Regions from separate parts of the Homo sapiens genome. Here all the other regions are linked to region 3. The links come from fine-mapping of genetic effects on gene expression. A gene starts in region 3. Each other region holds a variant in brackets. All regions are shown on one strand. Distances are between the middles of the regions. Region 1 has its middle 13 kb from the start of ZC3H18-DT. Region 2 overlaps ZFPM1 (zinc finger protein, FOG family member 1). Region 3 holds the start of ZFPM1 (zinc finger protein, FOG family member 1). Region 4 overlaps ZFPM1 (zinc finger protein, FOG family member 1).

What was found.
Region 1: its variant is fine-mapped to the expression of ZFPM1 in whole blood (TOPMed, PIP above 0.99). The same link has a PIP of 0.9 or more in blood mononuclear cells.
Region 2: its variant is fine-mapped to the expression of ZFPM1 in whole blood (TOPMed, PIP above 0.99).
Region 4: its variant is fine-mapped to the expression of ZFPM1 in whole blood (TOPMed, PIP above 0.99).

What each region holds. Positions count from the first base shown.
Region 1 is chr16:88,546,884-88,552,029 of GRCh38, forward strand. No RefSeq gene overlaps it. Among named protein-coding and RNA genes, the nearest start is that of ZC3H18-DT, 13 kb to the right of the region's middle. The variant G/A (reference allele first, on the strand shown) is at 2,862.
Region 2 is chr16:88,498,607-88,503,752 of GRCh38, forward strand. All of the region lies in intron 3 of ZFPM1 (zinc finger protein, FOG family member 1), which reads left to right. Among named protein-coding and RNA genes, the nearest start is that of ZFPM1-AS1, 30 kb to the right of the region's middle. The variant C/T (reference allele first, on the strand shown) is at 2,319.
Region 3 is chr16:88,450,392-88,455,537 of GRCh38, forward strand. It overlaps ZFPM1 (zinc finger protein, FOG family member 1), which reads left to right and starts at 2,889. Exons shown (of 10, transcript NM_153813.3): 1 at 2,889-3,287. The coding sequence starts at 3,248. RefSeq lists silencers at 2,614-2,913, 2,924-3,013, 3,474-3,603, 3,824-3,893, 4,834-5,146.
Region 4 is chr16:88,534,568-88,539,675 of GRCh38, forward strand. ZFPM1 (zinc finger protein, FOG family member 1) reads left to right here. Exons shown (of 10, transcript NM_153813.3): 10 at 1-2,464. The coding sequence ends at 412. Among named protein-coding and RNA genes, the nearest start is that of ZFPM1-AS1, 6.1 kb to the left of the region's middle. RefSeq lists a silencer at 1-80. The variant G/A (reference allele first, on the strand shown) is at 2,361.

The DNA.
Region 1 (5,146 bases), 96 kb after region 3:
GGAGAAGGCGAGGGGACAGAGGGTGGGGAAGGTGAGGGGACAGAGGGTGGAGAAGGTGAGGGGACAGAGGGTGGAGAAGGTGAGGGGACAGAGGGTGGGGAAGGTGAGGGGACAGAGGGTGGAGAAGGTGAGGGGACAGAGGGTGGGGAAGGTGAGGGGACAGAGGGTGGAGAAGGTGAGGGGACAGAGGGTGGAGAAGGTGAGGGGACAGAGGGTGGGGAAGGCGAGGGGACAGAGGGTGGGGAAGGCGAGGGGACAGAGGGTGGGGAAGGCGAGGGGACAGAGGGTGGGGAAGGCGAGGGGACAGAGGGTGGGGAAGGCGAGGGGACAGAGGGTGGGGAAGGCGAGGGGACAGAGGGTGGGGAAGGCGAGGGGACAGAGGGTGGGGAAGGCGAGGGGACAGAGGGTGGGGAAGGCGAGGGGACAGAGGGTGGGGAAGGCGAGGAGAGGGTGGGGAAGGCGAGGGGACAGAGGGTGGGGAAGGCGAGGGGACAGAGGGTGGGGAAGGCGAGGGGACAGAGGGTGGGGAAGGTGACCGGACAGAGGGTGGGGAAGGTGCGGGGACAGAGGGTGGGGAAGGTGCGGGGACAGAGGGTGGGGAAGGTGAGGAGACAGAGGGTGGGGAAGGTGCGGGGACAGAGGGTGGGGAAGGTGACTGGACAGAGGGTGGGGAAGGTGACGGGACAGAGGGTGGGGAAGGCGAGGGGACAGAGGGTGGGGAAGGTGACCGGACAGAGGGTGGGGAAGGCGAGGGGACAGAGGGTGGGGAAGGCGAGGGGACAGAGGGTGGGGAAGGCGAGGGGACAGAGGGTGGGGAAGGCGAGGGGACAGAGGGTGGGGAAGGCGAGGGGACAGAGGGTGGGGAAGGCGAGGGGACAGAGGGTGGGGAAGGCGAGGGGACAGAGGGTGGGGAAGGCGACGGGACAGAGGGTGGGGAAGGCGACGGGACAGAGGGTGGGGAAGGTGAGGGGACAGAGGGTGGGGAAGGTGAGGGAACAGAGGGTGACAACCATCCAAGTGTGAAACTCATGGGTATGTGCTTGGGCTGCAGACACCCTGGCCTCACCCCACCTTGGCCCTTTTGATCCATGAGACTGCACAGTTCCCCTCCTGGACCCTTGGTTCCCCCCACACCCAGGAGGCATAGAACAGGCAGGACATCCTGTGGCCAGAAAGATGATCGGGGGTCTCCAGGGCACGGAGCCCCCACCCACACACTACAGTAGGGATTGACAGCAGCCTGACCGCCACTGCCCTTTCCCCTGTAAGGTGGGGTTCCCAGTGGATGGCCAGAGGGTCCCACCCCAGTGGCTCCAATCCCCACCCTCCACGTCAGCACCAGCCAGGTGGTCACCGTCAATGACCCTGTCACCCTCCCGGGGGAAGGGGCTTCCAGGCCCACAGCCCTGGCAGGTTCATGTGGGGCACTGGCCCTCTTCCTGCCCCACCCACCAGCCCTGTGGTCTGGGCGCCTGGCTCACACCTCCCTTCCTCCCACACGCACCAGCCACAGGCTCCAGGGTCTCAGAGGAACTCCTGGGACATCCCTTTATCTGGCACCAAAGCCCGGGGCAGGGCCTGCATGTTGACCGACTGCCTTCTCTGCTCTGGCTGGGCTGAATAGCTGGGCCCAGCTCCCTCCCGGGGACTCTTCCCCCAGCCAGGGTTCACCTGAAGGCACCAGTGAGGCAGCGCCACCCCGAACAGGGGTCCCCAGACTTTGGAAAAATCACAAACCAGAAAACTGTCGACAATCACTTCCGGGTTAGCATAGGACTCTAACCTTATGTTTTTTCCAGATACTGACATTAATTTTTTTAACTATTGCTCAATAGTCTCAATATCTCATAAAAGCACCTTTTAGCACCAAATACAGTAGGATAGCACAATCTCTGCACAAAAAGCCTTTTACACGAAAGTATTATTTTTTTTAATAGAGACGAGTTCTCCCTATGTTGCCCAAGCTGCTCTCAAACTCCTGGGCTCAAGCGATCCACCTGCCTTGGCCTCCCGAAGTGCTGGGATTACAGGCGTGAGCCACCGCGCCCGGCCCACATGAATGATTTATTCCACTTGGCGCTCCTTTTCCTCGTTTCACTGTACATCGATGAAGACATTGGCACCAACGCACAGGTCCATGGATCAGAGTTGAGGAAAGTCTGTTCCAATCTTAACCCTTTTGGTGCTGGCTTTGTTTTACTGAAGACGAAACAGAGGGTCCAAGTGGTTACATCCCGAGCGCCGGCAGTGGCTGCACGAGGCAGGACTGCCTCCAGCTCTAACTGTACTGCACCTGCACCCACCAGCCAGGGTCCGCCGCTTTCAGCCGGAATCCATAGACAATTCACACGGCAAAGAGAGGAGACCAAGCTTGGGTTTCAAAATGAGCTGAAATATCAAAGCAGAATAAAGTCACTTCTTTAAACGTGGGGCCATTTCAGAGTTAATTTCACAAAAGGAGACATCGTGTTGCTTCAAACTGCTGTGCAAACATCAGAGTGACTCGTTATCTAAGTCTCAGTCAGAAACACTGGCAGTCACTTCTGATCTGCGTTAGATTGTAAGTCATTTGTTCTCCTCTAAATAGCAACAAGAGGCCGGGCATGGTGGTTCATGCCTGTAATCCCAACACTTTGGGAGGCCGAGGCAGGTGGATCACAAGGTCAAGAGATCAAGACCATGCTGGCCAACATGGTGAAGCCCTGTCTCTACTAAAAATACAAAAATTAGCCGGGTGTGGTGATGCGCACCCATAATACCAGCTACACGGGAAGCTGAGGCAGAAGAATCACTTAAACCTGGGAGGCAGAGGTTGCAGTGAACCGAGATCACGCCACTGCACTCCAGCCTGGGGACAGAGC[G/A]AAACTCCATCTCAAAAAAAAAAGAAAAAAAGAAAAGAAACTCTGAAGTCAGTCTGAAGCCTGGGAGGGACAAAGGTGTTTTGCAGGTTCCTGCAGCTCAGGCACCCAGCGGGGGCTCACTTGAGAGGGTTAAGAGGGTGAGTGCCTGGGAGGAGCCTTCAATCAAAACTTAGCTGTAGCTGAGTCCAACTGTGTGGTACCTCCCCAGCACAGCCCTCTGACCTGGGAACAGGCCCAGAGAACACAGAGGGAGTGAAGGTTGGTTATCTCCCCCTGAGGTCTGCGCTCCTACCCCTGGCTCCTGATCCGAGCCCTTGCTGTCAGAGAAGACAGGAACCTCACACTTCCTGAACACGCGCAATGCCCCTACCAAAACACGGGAGCTGCAGGCGGGCCTTTGGTCTTCTTCTGCTCCGTGCCCATTGCCATCTTCCAGAAGACACACATCATGCCTGTTCTCTCCTTCCACGCCAGGCCAGGGGAGAGGGTGGCCCCCACCCCAACCCCAACTCTGCTCCAACCGAAGGAGCCTCCTCCTGTGTGCACCCCCGTCCCCAGCACGGCGCAGCTCTACCACCAAACAGACAAAGCACAGCCAGCTCTGATTGACCCAGGGAGGCCGGGGACCTTGCCCTCTGGAGCAGCCCACATGGCCCACGGATGGCGCAGTGGCCCCCACACAGAAGGCTGCCCTTGGGCTCCTTTCCGGAGCGGCATGGCCCGGAGGAAGTGGCCAGGTAGCAAGGCCAGGCTACAGTGAGGCTGGCGGAAAGAAGAGGAAATGGGCGTGGACACCATCTGCCGGACTCAGAGCCCTGGGGACTCAGGCAGTCTGACAGCAACCTTGGCCCATGAAAACACGGAGCCTAAGGGGCTCCCGGGAGAGGACAGTCCAGGCTCCGAGCCCAGCTCAGATGAGAGGCTGCCCGGATAATGACCTTCAGAGGGCTCTGCTCATCATTACATGAAATTATGCAAATGAGACTTTATGTATTTATTTAAGAGTCTCTGTTGCCCAGGTTGGAGTGCAGTGGTGTGATCTGGGCTCATTGCAATCTCCACCTCCCAGGTTCAAGTAATTCTCATGCCTCAGCCTCCCAAGTAGATGGGATTACAGGCGTGAGCCACCGTGCCTGGCCAAGACTCTTTTAAAATGCGAATTCAGGCCAGGCGAGGTGGCTCAGGCCTGTAACCCCAGCACTTTGGGAGGCCGAGGCAGGTGGATCACCTGAGGTCAGGAGTTCAAGACCAGCCTGGCCAACAGGGTGAAACCCCGTCTCTACTAAAAATACAAAAATTAGCTGGGTGTGGTGGTGTGGGCCTATAATCCCAGCTACTTGGGAGGCTGAGGCAGGAGAATTGCTTGGACCCAGGAGGTGGAGGTTGCCGTGAGCTGAGATCACGCCACTGCACTCCAGCTTAGGCAACAGAGCGAGACTCCGTCTCAAAAAACAAAAAACAACAACAAAAAAAAACCCACCCCATTAGCAGCCGCCTGCCTCTCCCCCTCCCCAGCCCAGACACCCCCAGTCCTTACCCCTGCTGTGGCTTTGCCTGTTGTGTGCATTCTGGAGACACAGAGGCACACGCATGTAGCCTCTCGTGACCGGCATCTTTCACTCTGCAGAAGGGTCTCAAGGTTCGTCCCAATGTAGCCTGTGTCAGCGTTCCACTCCTTTTTATGGCTGAAGAATTTTCCAGGCACAGATGGACCCCATTTCGTTTTTCCATTCACTCATCAATGAGCACCTGGTCTTGTCACATTTTTATTTTTCATTTACTTATTTATTTACTTTTTGAGACAGGGCCTCACCCTGTCACCCTGGAGTGAGGGTGGAGTGCAGTGGTGTGATCTCAGCTCACTACCACCTCAAATTCCTGGGCCCAAGTCATCCTCCCGCCTCAGCCTCCCGAGTACTTGGGACTACAGGTGTGCACCACCACACCCGGCTAATTGCTCTGTCGCCCAGGCTGGAGTGCAGTGGTGCAATCTCGGCTAACTGCAACTTCCGCCTCCTGGGTTCAAGCGATTCTCCTGCCTCAGCCTCCTGAGTAGCTGGGATTACAGGCGTGCACCACCATACGTGGGTAATTTTTGTTTTTGTTTTTGTTTTAGTAGAGATGTGTTTTCACTATGTTGGTCAGGCTGGTCTTGGACTTCTAACCTCAAGCAATCCACCTGCCTTAGCCTCCCAAATTGCTGGGATTATAGGCATGAGCCACCACACCAGGCCTGATTTTTTTTATTTATATTTTTTGCAGAGATGGGGGCCTCACTGTGTGCC
Region 2 (5,146 bases), 48 kb after region 3:
GGCCTCGCTGAGCCGACGTTTGAGTTCCAAATGAACGAGGGGCGTCTGGAAACGGTGTCCCAGGCCGAGGGCGCAGTCCCGGAGCCGGGGGCACCCCTCTAATCTGGAGTGATCGCAGGGGTGAGGCAGCAGTCAGCTCAGAGCCTGAGGCCCCATCACATTGGGCCTGCGGCTGCAGAGGGTGGTTATCTTGGAAACTGAGTTCAGAGGTCGCAGGCTCTGGCTGGCCTGACCCTGGGTCGTTGGCGTGGACACCTTGGCTGCCCCTGGCCCTGAGCCTTCCCATGACACCCTTCCCTCCCCTCTCCCAAGCACTGGCCCCAGGCCTGGGTGGGGGCTGCACCCGGGTCCTGCCTGCACCACCAGACCCCAGGCCTGCCTCTCCACGCAAGGCCCTGTGGGCGGAGCCCCTGGACAGGGTTGAGCTTGGGGCCAGAGCCATCTGCAGCCCCCGAGGCCGGCTCCCCTTCCTTCATCCCCAGCTCCCCAACGGCCCCCGTGGCTCCCCCATGACCAGGCTGCCGGCACCCTGGGGCCTGGCTGACCTCCCGCACCCACCCCAGCCCTGGCCATACAGAAGCCGCCTCCTGAACCTGGCCCTGACTTCAGCCTCCACCCCGGGAAAGTCACCTGGGCCTCGAAGTCCCGAAATCGCAGGCAGAGCCGGCACTCACTCACTCCCTTGTACTTCCATTTATTGAGCACAAGCTATGTGCCAGCCCTGTGATAGACAGGGGGATGCAGCGTGAGGAAAACAGACCTCCTCCAGAGCAGCCGCGGAGGAGAAGAGAGCAGTCGTGGGGGCCGCGCAGCGGGTGGGAGACGCAGGCCAGGGCAGAGGAAGCCGGGTACAGAGGCCTGGGGTGGGGCCGGCCCAGCTGACTTTGGGAGCAGCGAAGGGGCCAGGGGGCAGGCAGGACCGCGCACGTGGACAGGGCGGAGCCTGGTGCCTAGCAGGCTGGACACGGAGCAGGTCTGCGTGCAGTGTGGGGGACCCCACCTGGGTGGCCCCTGAATCCCGCTGGCTGGGTGGAGGACGGCTCAGGGGCAGACAGAGGGAGATCTGAGAAAGGGCTTGGCTGAAGTGGGCAGTGTCCCCATTCACAGATGGGAAACTGAGGCCAGGAGAGGTGAGGTAGCCACCCCACCCCCATGCTGGGGAGGGGCCGAGTGGGCACAGAGCCCACAGGCCTGCCTCCCAGGGAAGGGCCCAGGCCCACCCATCCAGCCTCTCCGGGTCCAGCCCCCAAGTCCCGTGGGCTCCCCGGCCCCTCCTCGGCCCCATGCCAGCAGAGGGTGAGCGGACAGTGGATGCCCCATGAGGAGCGCAGCCGGAGCCCTGGGTCTCCAGCCATCCTGGTGGTTGGGGGGCGGGGGCCGGGCCTGGCTGCCTGCCGTGCTGCCCTCTGGCCTCACCACCTTCCGGGAGAGGCTATCTGTGGCCAGGGCAGCCTATCTCGGCCGCAGGCGCTAATCAAGCTGGCTTCCTCCTCCGCCCTCCCACCCGGCTTCCTGCCCCGGCCATCCCCCACCACCAGCCCCCACCCAGGCCCCGCCGTTGCCCTACCGGCCCCTCCCAGACATCTCGGGGGCAGGCCCACCAGAGTCACCTGGGCGAGCCCCTGGAGCCCCGGCTACTGCCCAGAAGCTTCCCTCCTTGCCCCTCCTGGGCCTGCCGCATGGCCGGGGACACAGCCAGCTCCCCCCATGAGCTGGTGGCCTCGTCAGGAAGACGGCCACAGGGCGCTCTTGGGAGGACCCTTGGGACAGTGGGCAGGCGCTGGGCAAGCCACAAGCGTGTCGCTGGCAGCTGCTGCCCCAGCTGCCCTTGTTCCCACCACTACACCCGTGTCACCACCAGCGTGGGCACCGTGACTGTCACTAGCACAGAAACAGCGCTATTAGAGAGTGCTGCTGCTGGCCTGGCCGCTGTCACCTTGCTGGTGCTGTCGCTGTCACTCTGGGTCATTCTGTCACCTTGCTAGGACTGTTGCTGCCAGCAGTGCTGTTGCCGTTACTGGCACCAACCCTCCCGCTGGCACAACGGCAGACTCAGCTTCCAGGTGTCACCTCTCTCACCGCAGACCTGGGGCCTGTTGTGCCCTGTTCTGGGCTCAGGGTCCTCATCTGTGAGACGTGGACAGGACAGTTCAGGCTCCCTGGGGCTGCTGGGGCAGGGCAGGGCCCACAGTTTCTCTTTCCCAGCAAGTCTGCGTGGTCAGCTCGGATCTTGGCCACCCTGGGCTGAGCCAGGTCCTGGGCACAGTGCTGGGTCCCTAGACGGCACCTCGGTGTCCTCACCTGACCGACAGGTACAG[C/T]GGGCCCTCCCTGTGGGGGTGCAGCCTTGGCTGGGGATATGTCAGGGTCTCTAAGGCTGGCCCCTCCCCACACTGGCCTGACTTCTCCACCTCCTCCTGCCCAGGAGGGAAACTGAGACACCACTGCTGGTGATGGAGGTAGCGGTCATGGATGCGGGGGCCCTCCCGCAGGTGCTGGTGATGATGGAGATAGCAGACATGGATGCGGGGGCCATCCCGCAGGTGCTGGTGATGATGGAGATAGCAGACATGGGTGCGGGGGCCCTCCCGCAGGTGCTGGTGATGATGGAGATAGCGGGTGTGGGTGCATGGGCTCTCCCGCAGGTACTGGTGATGATGGAGATAGTGGGCCTGGGTGCGGGGGCCCTCCCGCAGGTGCTGGTGATGATGGAGATAGCAGACATGGGTGCGGGGCCCTCCCGCAGGTGCTGGTGATGATGGAGATAGCAGACATGGGTGCGGGGCCCTCCCGCAGGTGCTGGTGATGATGGAGATAGCAGACATGGATGCGGGGGCCATCCCGCAGGTGCTGGTGATGATAGAGATAGCAGACATGGGTGCGTGGGCCCTCCCGCAGGTGCTGGTGATGATAGAGATAGCAGACATGGGTGCGTGGGCCATCCCGCAGGTGCTGGTGATGATGGAGATAGCGGGTGTGGGTGCATGGGCTCTCCCGCAGGTACTGGTGATGATGGAGATAGTGGGCCTGGGTGCGTGGGCCATCGCGCAGGTGCTGGTGATGATAGAGATAGCGGGTGTGGGTGCAGGGCCTCTCCCGCAGGTGCTCTTGATGATGGAGGTAACGGGTGTGGGTGCCGGGCCCTCCCGCTGGTGCTGATGATAATGGAGATAGCGGGCATGGGTGCAGGGCCCTGCCGCTGGTGCTGGTGATGGAGGTAGTGGGCGTGGGTGCAGGGCCCTCCTGCCACTGCTGTTTGCCATGGGATCAACCCCAGCCCGCGAGGGGGCTCCTGGGCCGATGAGCAAACTGAGGCCCAGTGAGTTCACGTGGTTCATCCGAGGTGGAGACCAGGCCGGTGAGCCCTGACCTCCTGACCCCAGCCCTGCAAACGCCCCAACCCATGGTTTAACACTCCTAGTAGCTCCTCCACCCCCGACGCGGCTCCACCCGCCCCCCCCCATTTATTTATTTATTTATTTATTTATTTATTTATTTATTTATTTATCTCTCCTCCTTCTCTGCGTGTAACTTTTTATTTCCTCACTGCGCTTTTCCATTACAGCGGCCGTGGACGCAGCTGATAAGATCGGTCCCCGGAGATGGGACAAAGGGGCCGCCATCGGCTCGAGGGCTGGTCATATCCTGCCCGAAAGGGCCGAGCAGGGCCTGAGATGCGGCAAGATGCTATCTCGGGTTTATTGCGTCTCGTGAGGGTGCCTCCCACCCCGGCCCCCCGCCCTCTCCCGCCCTGCCCAGGGGCCCGGGCGCCGGGCACTCAGGACCCACCTCTGCCCCATAGGCCTGACGCCTCTGTGCTTGCCCCTCCATGTCCCCCAACCCCGTCCCTGTGCCCTGTGGGCCGCCCGGGGCCATGGACAGGGTCTTTGGCCCCAGGTTCCCATCTGGATCCACCCTGGAGTCACTGTAGGTCTTGGGCTTGTCCCCAGCCTCCCAGAGCCCCACTGTCCCTTCCCGTCCAGTGCTGCTGGAGGCAGTGGCCTTGGTGACCCCCCCTAGCCGAGGGTCCCCACCTCGCAGGTCGGAGCCACCCGGTCCGGGCTGCCCCAGCGCCAGCAGCTGCTGCTTCCCTTGACTCAGCAGTTGGCTCCTGGGAATTTATCCCAGAAAAATCATCCCGGCATGGGCGGGCTCAGGTCAGCATGTCAAAGATGGCAAGCCATTTATTTTTTTAAATTTTTGCTGTCTTGCCACGTTTCTTCCAGAGAAGGATGTTCTAAGGGCAGCAGAGGCCACGTGGATGCCCGTTTGTGGGTCTCTGCACACACGGTGGCCGGACGGCAGATCCGGGGCTGCCCTCAGAGCGCTCGCCACCCCCACCCGCCTTTAGCTGTCGTTCCTCCAACCCCACCAGCCATGAAGGCCCCTCAGGGCTGGAAGGCTGTGTGCGGTCTCTTCGGCAGGTGGGAGGTGGCAGGGGCGCTGCTCCGCGGGGCAGGGTGGGTGGATGAGCACGGCGCCCCTGGGACAGGAACCCCCACTGTAGCACAGTGCTTGATTCAGGGGCCAGTGGGGACCCCCGTGGGTCCTGAGCAGCGGCACAGGGGAGGGAGCTGTGTCTGGGGGGCCACGGTTCCTGAGTGGAGGGATCTGTGTCTGGGGAGGGGCCCACGGTTCCTGAGTGGAGGGATCTGTGTCTGGGGGGCCCACGGTTCCTGAGTGGAGGGATCTGTGTCTGGGGAGGGGCCCACGGTTCCTGAGTGGAGGGATCTGTGTCTGGGGGGCCCACGGTTCCTGAGTGGAGGGATCTGTGTCTGGGGGGCCACGGTTCCTGAGTGCAGGGATCTGTGTCTGGGGGGCCCACGGTTCCGGAGTGGAGGGATCTGTGTCTGGGGGGCCCACGGTTCCTGAGTGGAGGGATCTGTGTCTGGGGAGGGGCCGGCCTGTTCTGCCTCCAGGGCTCCTCCTGCTTCCTGGTCTTTCCCACCCTCTGCCTGGCCTGCATCTGACTCACAGCCAGCTGCCTCTCTGTGGAGCCAGGTCCTCTCTGACCTCGGTCTTCTCATCTGTGTTGGGGTGATCGGTGCCATGGCAGCACCCTCTGTGGCTTCCCATAAAATCACACGTGACTTTTAGAAGAGGAGACACATTCACAGTTCACGGAAGCACCTTCTGCCTCCGGGACTCA
Region 3 (5,146 bases):
CTTCTCAAACCCCAAAAATGTCTTCTTTGGGCTGAGGTTGTTTTTGGAGGGGAGGCAGTCTCCAGGCCACTGCCAGACAGCACTTCCTATGTGTTCCAGGCCCTGCTCTCCCTGGGAGCCAGCAGGGGAGAACCCAGTGCAGCTCCTGAATGCAATTCCAACTTCCCCACCAGTGACTTTGGATGTGAATCTCAACACACCTCGAGAACATGCAGGGGCAGATGGAAACTGGGGTTCACAATGGGCAGCAGGTGGGGGGTGGAGGTCCTAGGTGGGCTCAGCCTGGACAGCCTCAGCAACCCCACGCCCTGTTCCTCTCCCACCTGATCAGGGACTCCTGGAAAGCCCCACTTGGATGTCACCTTCTCCAGAAAGCCTTCTCTGATTTCCCCAGGCAGAGATGGCCGCTCCTGCTCTGGGCTCCCCCAGACCATCCTCTAGACAGCATGCCTTGTGTCTCTTCCTCAGTGTATGGTTATCGTCATGACCACCCTGAGGGTTTAATGGTGTGTGCAAGGTCCTGCAGCTTTACCACTCGACATCAGCAGGCAGCCTCCCCTCTTGGCTGCGGTTTTCTCATCTGTAATAATGCCTTCCTCCGGGCAGGTAGAGGGACAGAGTGTAGAAGGAATGTGCTACAAAAGCAGCCCTGGCAGGGTTAGGGGACCTGTGACCGGTGCAGGGGCACAGGGCCCGAGCTGGGAAGGGCACCACACCGGGCTCAACATCCTGCCCTTGATGCCCTGGGGTTTTGGGGTTTGGGGGTTTTGATCAAGGGGGCTCCACATTTTCATATTTTCATTTTGCATGGGGCCTTGCAAGTGATGGAGGCAGGGCAGCAGGCTGTGGTCTGGACCTGCCGCCTGCCCCCTTCGCTGGCTTCCCTGGGCATGTCCCTCCATGTTTTCATCTATATATGGGCTCATAGAAATAAATCAGATCAGGCAAAGCAGCAGCCAAAATGATCCCCATCGTCTCCTCCTGCAGCCTAGACAGACATCAATCATGGATGATCATGGCTGTCTCCTGTTGACCCTCGGAATCCACCTCAACACAGATCTCCGCCCGTTCCAGCAGCGCCAGCCTGGGTGCCACTTGCTGTGCGTGGAGCTTCAGACCCAGCCCAGGTGCCAGCCCATGGCCACCTCCTCCAGGAACTCCCCTAACTCACAGGTCCACATACTCTAAAGTGGACTTCTTTGGGGAAGGAGGCGAGGCCTGGTGGGAAACCCAGACAGGTAGGTGCTCCATCCAGTTGACAAGCACTGGGTGGGGGCGGGAGGGTGGGGGGGAGGTCCTAGGTTGAGTGAACCAATCAGACATGGGCCCCACCCCCTCCAGAGAGCAGCTGTGGGAAGGCTGTGCCCACTGGACCCTGGCAGAGAGCAGGAAGGGCTGGAGGACCCGTATGCCCCTGGGCAGCTCTCTTGGCCTCCTGGTCTCAGTGTTCCTGTCTGTCCATGGCAGTGGGGAGGGACGGCGCATATCCAGTGTTGTACCCCTGCCTCTCCTACCCACCCGCCACTCTCCTGTACCAGGCTCTGAGGGTAAGCCCCCACTTCTCCCCTTCCTTGGAGCCAGGGAATAGGTCACAGAAGTTGGCACGAGATGGGGTCTTAGGAGCTCCCAGCAGGCTGGCGGGTGGTGTGACAGTCCTGCTGTGCGATGATCTCATCATCAGGTGGGAGGGGTCCTTCCTGTCTGCCCCTGGGCCCACTGACGCCCGTTTCTTATGAGTACGGGGGATGGGGGAGCAGGTAGCAAGTGTAGACCGAGAACATTAAAAGGAGATGATACAACTCAGCTGGGAGTGGGGGACAGCCCCCCAATGCGTGACCTTGAGCAAGTCCCCGAGCCTCCGTGAAGTGGGGCTCTTGAACACACCCCAGAGGGCAACAGTTCTCCATTTCCAGGCCTGAGCTGACAGCACCGCGCCCACAAACCTCGCTGACCTCTGACTGCTCCGAGAGGGGGCTGTGGCCCGGGCGCTGTGGGCAACTCCTTCGTGGGTCTCCTGCGGGGCGCCCTGGAGAGGCTCGGTGAGGAAAGAGGCCCCAAGTGGCAACGCCCAGGGCTGCCGGCTCCCGCGCCCCCTCCTCGATTTCCAGCCTGGTCTGAGCTCACAGGGGAAGACCCGAGATCCTGCTCTCAGTTGGCGGACCCCACCGCAGTCTGGGACGGAAGCCCCCTCCCTGGCCCGAATCCGCTCCACACCCCAAGTCTGGCCCAAGAGAAACGTGGGCGTCAAGGCCTCGGGCTTCCTGAGCCGGTTGTCACTGCCCCCACCGCGCACGTGGAGCGTGCGGCAGAGCCCAGGGGTCTAGGGAGGGACCAAGGGCTGGGGGCGGAGTTACAGTGCGGGGGCGGAGCCTCGGCGTCTCAGGACCCAACCAGGTCGGGTCAGGTTTGGAGGCGGAGCTGGCGCCGAGAGGCGGGGCGCAGGATGCGGTGCCGCGGGGCAGCAGAACAGAACCGAATAGGTCTCAGACTCCCAGCGCGGCCTGGGGACATGACCTCCGGGCCAAAGAGGAGTGGGGGAGGCTAGAGGTCTCCCCGGGGCGCGGGCGGGGCCGAACCAGGAAGGGGCGGGGCATCGAGCGGGGCGGGGACAGTGCCTTGAAGGCCCAGACGGACAGGGGCGGGGCCGCAGCGCTGGGGTCGGAGCCAGCGCCGTAAAGAGCGAGGCGGGCGGGGGCGCGGTCGCGGCTCTGGGGGCGGAGCCAGAGCAACGAAGAGCCGGGCTGGCGGGGGCGTGGCCGCGGCGCTGGGGGCGGAGCCGGAGAGGTGCAGGGCCCGGCAGGAGGCACGGGGCGGGGCCGGAGCGCCGGGGGCGGGGCGGGAGGTGCGGCGGCCGACGACGCTCAGGCCCGGCCCCGCCCCGTGCCTCCAGCCCGCCAGGAGCGCCCTCGCAGTGGCCGCCTGCTCCGCCGCTCGCCGCCCGCGGGTTCCATTGAGAAAAGCCGAGCGGCCGCGGCGGCGGCGGCGAGTGCGCGGGAGCGGAGGAGCCGGCACCCGCCCGTCGGGCAGTCCGCGCGCCCGCAACGCAGGACCGTGGCCTCTCGGGCCTCCGCGGCAGCTCCAGCGGCTCCGGGGCTGGGCGCGCGGGCTGGGGGCGCGGGCCGGGGCGGCCGCGGAGACCGGGGGCCGGGGGCATGAGCGGCCCCGCGGCCCCGCCGCGCCCCCGCCGCCCGCCGCCGCCCGCCCGGGGCTAGAGGCGGCCGCCGGGAGGGCGCGCGGCGCCGGAGACATGTCCAGGCGGAAACAGAGCAACCCCCGGCAGATCAAGCGTGAGTCAAACTTTGCCCGCGGTCCCCTCCGCGCGCCCGACCCCCGCCGGAGCCCAGCCGCCAGCGCCGCCCCCGCCCGTCCCCGCTCTGCCCTGGGCGCCGGCGACCTTCACCCCGCGCCGCGCCCCCCGCGCTGTGCCAAGCGCGCCGTAATCTAATCTCCGCCGGCGGCCTGGGCCCCCGCGTCTCGGCTTGGGCACCGGGGGGTTCAGCCCAGGAGGGGGCCGCCCGGAGGCCGGGAGGAGGGTGTTTGGGGGCGCGGCCCGGGCAGCTCGGCCCCTCGCGGCCTGCCCCTCCCCCGCATCTGCGAGATGGTGCGGCGATAGGGCGGCCCCGATCTGGGCTCAGATAAAGTTTAAAATATTACATTCTGCAAGTCCCGTCCTGATAAGATCGTTCTGTCGGGACGGGCTGAAATTGTGATCTTATCTCGCGCGGTTGACTCTCCCAGGCTTTGTATCTAGAAGCGAAGAGAGAGACCTGGGAGGCAGAGGGGACACCCGGGGCCGCGGAGATGCCTGGCCAAGTGGCAGGCACCGGCCCGCGCCCACCCCCACCGGTGCCGTCGCAGAGCCGCAGGACAGGGGAGGGGGTAGCGCGCAGCTGCCGCAGCCTAGGCACTTGGCTCCAGCCCCCCAGACACCCCCACCCCGTGCCCTAGCGCTGAAGTCCTGAACCCAGGCCCCGCCAGCCTGGTGACACCTCCTGGACCCTGCAAGTGTCCCAGCCAAGGCGGCATGGGCAACAAATGGTGCCCTCGGATGCCCGCGGGCACCCCCTGGCATCCCAATGGGCTGCTCTGAGTCAGAGAAGGGCCTCCCAGGACGCAGCCCCGGGCCGGGGTCGCCCCTGCACGCCACTAAGTTTCTCGCTGGTCCGGCTCCCTGCCCGGTCAGAGGCTGCTGCCCCGCCGCCACATTGCCAGTGCCCCCGCGATGAGAACTAAGCTGTCGGGGCCACTGTCTGGCCTGGGCCTCTGGGCTGTGCCAGGAGGGAGCAAGAGCACAGGAAGCTACCCTCCCCACCCTATGCCAATAATAACTTTGCGCCTCACAGTTAGGGCCCAGACGCAGGTCTTCCTCCCCGGGGCGCCTCCCCGGAGCCTGACGGGCAGGTCGTCTGAGCCCTGCCAGGAGGCCACGACGGAAACCCGCCCGCTGCCCAGCCGTAGGCGCCCGGGCACTACCTCCTTTGTCCACACGACCACTGCCACCAGGACCCCTTGTGCGGGGCCTGTGGGAGCTTCCCTACTCAGGAGGTCTCCCGAGGCGGGGGTCACAGGCATGAACCGGTTCCCGTAACCCAACTCCCTCAGCGCAAACGGGACCTGTTTTCCGAAAGTCGCCTTCTATCGTGTCAACTCAAGTATTAAAAGCCACCCACAGGTCCCGATCCGCGCTTGTGCTCTGGTTTCTTTTTCCTTCCTTCCCTGAGCGCCTATGTTCGGTTCTGGGGTGTGTGTGTGTGTGTGTGTGTGTGTGTGTGTGTGTGTGTGGTGTTTCACTGTGATGAGAAATGCAGATAGCTCGGACAGGGAGATCGCAGGTTGGAAACCGATCTCCAGCGCTGATAAGGCCGCCAGCGCCAGCGAGAGCCCGTAGCCCAGCCCAGCGGGGCGGGCAGAGCGCGCGCACTTTGGGAACTGGGACCGCGGCGGGTGCACGGTGAGCCACCGCGGCCCATCCTCGTTGCGGCCCGGGACCGGGGCAGAGAAAGGGCCCGGACGAGGAAGGCAGGGCCGCGGACCCTCCCTGTCGCTCGCGGCCCGGGGCGCCTCCTCCCCATGGCAGATCTCAGCACGTTAAGATGCGAAGGCTGATTGTCACCAAGCGGCGGCGCCCGCCCGCCCGCCCTCTTGC
Region 4 (5,108 bases), 84 kb after region 3:
GGAGCATTTCCGCCTGGCGCACGGCCTGCTGCTCGGCGCGCCCCTGGCCGGCCCGGGGGTCGAGGCCCGGACGCCGGCCGACCGCGGCCCCTCGCCCGCTCCCGCCCCCGCCGCCTCCCCGCAGCCCGGGTCCCGTGGCCCCCGGGACGGCCTCGGCCCGGAGCCCCAGGAGCCGCCGCCCGGCCCGCCCCCGTCCCCGGCCGCCGCGCCCGAGGCCGTGCCGCCCCCGCCGGCGCCCCCCTCCTACTCGGACAAGGGCGTCCAGACTCCCAGCAAGGGCACGCCGGCGCCGCTGCCCAACGGCAACCACCGGTACTGCCGTCTTTGCAACATCAAGTTCAGCAGCCTGTCCACCTTCATCGCCCACAAGAAGTATTACTGCTCCTCGCACGCCGCCGAGCACGTGAAGTGAGCGCCCACACTACAGCCGCAGACGCTTTGCACGCCCCGCTGCGATGCGGGGAGGGGGCCGCCCCCAGGCCGCACGGACTGCCGCTCCTGGGAACCCCGCCACGCACAGGCCTCGGCGGAGGGGGCCGCAGGGGGCAGCGCCCGCCTGGACCCTTGGCACTTAATAAAGAAGTTCAGTTTGATGAGCATGGTGGTGGGCCAGCCTAGTTCTCTGAGCCAGCAGGCACACGCAGCCAGTGTCACATCCAGCCCTGCTGTGTACACAGGCCACTGCGGCCCGGAGTGGCTGGGCCCCTGCCGGAGTTACACCACTGGGTGCTAAGAGCTAGACCGAGCGTCAGGTCGGAGGCCACAGCACACACTGAACCACTGCAGGGCCAGCCGCTCTGGGCCTACCCCACCCCAGCCCTGTCCATACCCCCCTAGGGAGAGCAGCCTCCACACTGCTGACCCTCTCCACGGTCTACTTGGCCGCCAGACACGGAAGAGAGGGGCACTGACCTGGCTGGCCATCCCCCAACCCTGCATGGTCCTGGGGGTCCGATGTCCCCCATCCAGTCACAGACCACCAGGGATGGCAGGGGTGGGGGCGCCCTGGGGAGGATGAAGCCCTGTGGTGGCCAAGGCTGGGGGAAGAACAGGCGAGTAGGTGGACAGGAGAGGGAGACCGAGGCCGAAGCATTCCCTGGCCTCGAGGGGGTCCTGATGCTCACTGGTGGGTGCATCTCTCCCTCAGAGCCAGGGCTGAGGACAACCGTGTGGTGGAGTCACCTGTGGTGGCTGAGTCGGTGCAAGGGTCAGGGCACCCCCACCCCCCGTCTTCCCTGCCCTGCTGGGCTGTATGGGCCGGCCACACTGAGGGAGTACTTGGCTGACCGCGTTCAGCCACGGTGTCACCGTGCCGTTTGCAGCTGGGTGGCTGTGGGCAGCCTCCAGCGTGCTTTCTCACTGGAGAACAAAAACACTCTTCTATTCCCAACGTCACTTTATTTTTTTATTTTTGGGTCTCACTCTCTTGCCCAGGCTGGAGTCCCTGGGATACTCACGGCTCATTGCAGCCTTGACCTCGTGAGCTCAAGTGATCTTCCCACCTCAGTTTCCTCAGTAGCTGGGGCTACAGGTGTACACCACCATGCCCAGCTAGTTTTTGTGTTTTTTGTAGAAATGGTGTCTCCCTATGTTGCCCAGGCTGGGCAACCCTATATTTTTTAGAGCTAAGGTCTTGTTCGGTTCCCCAGGCTGAAGTTCAGTGGCACGATCATAAGTCACTGCAGCCTCAAACTCCTGAGCTGAAACCATCTTCCTGCCTCAGCCTCCCAAGTAGCTGGGACTACAGGCTTGACCCACCACACCTGGCTAACTTTTAAAACATTTTTATAGAGACAGGGTCTTCCTGTGTTGCCCAAGATGGTCTCAAACTCCTGACCTCCAGTGCTCCTGCAGCCTCAGCCTCCCAGAACATTAGGATGACAGGCGCGAGCTACCATTCCCAGCCCATTTCCAACTCTACTTGAACTAGCTGCATTTTTTTCAGCTTTGCCCAGCAGCCCTGGTGAGTGCAGGCAAAGAAGGCAGCGGCCTCTTGCCTCAGAAGCCCGAGGCACTTCCCAGCCAGTCCAGGGCTCGCTCTCCTGCCCGCAGCTCGTGGGCCTGGGTCTGCAGCGCTTTCAGTGGTCTCTGATGTCTTTGTCCACCTGCCCACTAGGGTCTGGCCAGATGGGGCCCGTAGCCAAGGCCAATGGACAGACATGGCTTCCACCCCCTCCCAGGGACCTGAGCTCCAGGGAAGGCAAGCAGCCTTTTCCTCACAGACACCCCTTCTGTTGAAGACCAGGTGATAGCGGGGACGGGAGGCACGGACCCCTCAAGTCTGCTCATCATTTGCATTGTTGTGCATGAATTTGCGTGGAGGGTTCAGGAGGCTCTGCCCCCAAGTCCTCCCCAGGTGC[G/A]GGCGCAGGGTACAAGATGTTCTAAAAAATAGAAACCTGGTGGGGGGTTGTCACTGTGTGTACATTTAAAAGTAAACTGTTTAAAGGTGTCTAGAAACTACGAATACAGTCTCTGGTGAGTGACAGGTGCTCAAAGGGGGTAAAAAACACAACTCCAGTGTCCTCACCCCCTTTGAGCCCCACCCCAAACCTGACCAAGCGAGGCCCTGGAATGCAAGACGCAGAGGAGAATCTGGAAGACAGCCCAGCAGTGCCGCACAAACCCGCCATGCACCCAGACGTGCCTCAGTGTCCACACCTGTGCCGCAGGAGTGGGAGTTCGGGCCTGGCAACCCTTCCTGGGGGCTCATCTCAGAGGCAGCAAGGACCCTGTGACCGGGACCCAGACCTGAAGTCACCCCAGAGGGCCCCGCCACGGCCCGGACTCGAAGCTTAGGGCAGCACACTGAGCCTCACGAAGGGCCCTGCGCCTGTCCTGGCTTGCATAACCCCCTACTGTCCCCACCATGCAGGGCTGGGTACCGCTGCCATCGCCCGTCCCAGGTCATTGGCGTGTGGCCAGAGCCCGTCCCCATCGCACCCAGGACTCGCCTCGGGCACGCGTCTTCTGCACAGACCCTGGGGCCCCCACACCTGGCAGACGCCATCAGTCACCCCTACTCCCTCAAGCCATCACCCCAGTCTCCCCCCACCAGACCACCGCCTGGGCCTCCACCCTGTGCCTCCCCTGTAGCCGCTGACTCGGTGGTGGCCCAGGCCTTCTCCCGCCTCTCCCCAGGAAGCTGCCTGCCCTGCTCACAGACACCCCCTCGGCCCCCCAGCTGGTTCTCTGCTGAGCCAGGTTCAAGGCTCTGAGTCTGCCCTGGTCTCCCCTTGAAGTTCTCCCTCCACACTCCTGGGGTGGGCTCATGGTCTTCTCTCCACTAATTCTGTAGTCTAGCCACGCCTCCCCTGAGCCCCAGACCTGCAGACCTACAGCCCCTGTGTCCTTCCAGGCCCTTGATGTACCATGAGTGACTGTAACCCCACGCACCTGTAACTTCTGCCCACACCTGTGCAGGTGTTCCCCTCCCCCAAGCCCACCTGTCTCCCCACACCAGTGCAAGCACCCCCCTGGCTCACTGTCTCCTCCCCTCACCTGCACAGGCATCACCCCGAGCCCACCTGTCTCCCCACCAGCCCACCTGTCTCCTCCCCTCACCTGCATAGGCATCCTCAGTGGCCCCCTGCCCCTCAAGCTGGAGAGCATCAGCCTTGCCTATTCACCCTTCATTGTCAAAGCAATGCTTGATTTGTCCAAATCCCACCGCTTCCCAAACCCATCCACCATCGCCGACTCCCAGACCTGGGACTTCACCCTTGAGTCTCTCTGAACAGCCGCTTCCAAATCTCGAGGGTCCACTCCTCACACAGCTGCCACCGCTCCCCTCTCCCAGGCTCACCCTGCTCTGAGGCCCGTCCCCGCCCCCAGGTGCCTGTGCTTCGCGTAAAACCCCTTCTGTTACTGGCCCCATCCTTCAGAGGTCAGAAGTCCCCCTTCTCTGCCTCAGCACAGAGGAGAGGAGCCTCCCGTTGGCGGCCTGTCCCGACGGCAGCCCCTGGCCCTGCTAAGCCCACCACCCGCTGGGCTCCATGCTGCAGCTGGTTGCTCCAGGCAGTGCCTCCTGATGCCCTCTCTACTCCTCCGAGGCTGTCCTTGTCATCCAGCTCTCAGCTTAGGTGCCCCCTCAGACCTGTCCCTGGCTCACTTCCCGCGTAGGAACGGTCACTCTGCACCTCTGTCCCCAGCTCGCTCCCGTGTAGGAATGGTCACTCTGCACCTCTGTCCCCAGCTCACTCCCACGTAGGAACGGTCACTCTGCATCTCTGTCCTCTTGCCCGTCGCCTACTGGCCTGTCTCCTTTGAAAGCTGGGGCTGCGCCTGCTTGACCTCTGCCTCCCAGGCACCCACAAGTGGCCGACACAGAGGAGGGGTCTGCATCTGTTGAAGTCACAGGGGTGTGTGTGGACCACAGCCAGCCCCTCCCCATGCCCAGCAGTCAGTCCAACTGTCACAGCCCACTTTCCAGCCACACTGTCCACTCATGGCACACGGCCACCGTCACAGCCCACTCTCCAATCACACTGTCCACTGAGTCCCATGTGTGACCTGAGCTTCTTGGATCTCGGACCGCTGCATTCCAAGCTGCTCTCTCCCCACTCCTCCCCCCTCCCCACTCCCCCCAGCTTTGCCTGTGAAACTCCTTCTCTCCTCAAGACTGGCTTAAAAGGTCCCCCTCAGGGCCACCCAGCCAGGCTGTACCCGTCCCCTGCCCTGCACAGGATGGGCCTCCCGCCTCCACCCTCCTTCTTCCAGGAGGGCACCTGCTCCCTTCTACCTGAGCTGCATACAGCTCAAAGCCCCTTGCAGGCTGGCAACTCCCAGGCAGGGTCAGCCCAGCCTGCCGGGAGTCCCTCACGCTACTTGGGACACAACGTCCACGAGATGATGCAGGGCAGCCTCGCCCTCCTGAGGCCCCTTCCTCTGCCAGGCACAGGGTCTGTCCTCTCAGCCACACCATGGGCTGAGTGCCCTGACTGTGCACGAGGGCCCCAAGGTTCCATCGGGACACACCTCCTGCCCAGGCACCTGGCGGGCACAGCTGGGCCAGGACACATCCCTCTGCTGGCTTCCAGCACTCGGTTCTCGACCACCAGCCGTACTGCTGGGCACTGGCTCCCAGCCACGCCCTGGCTTACAGAAAGCTC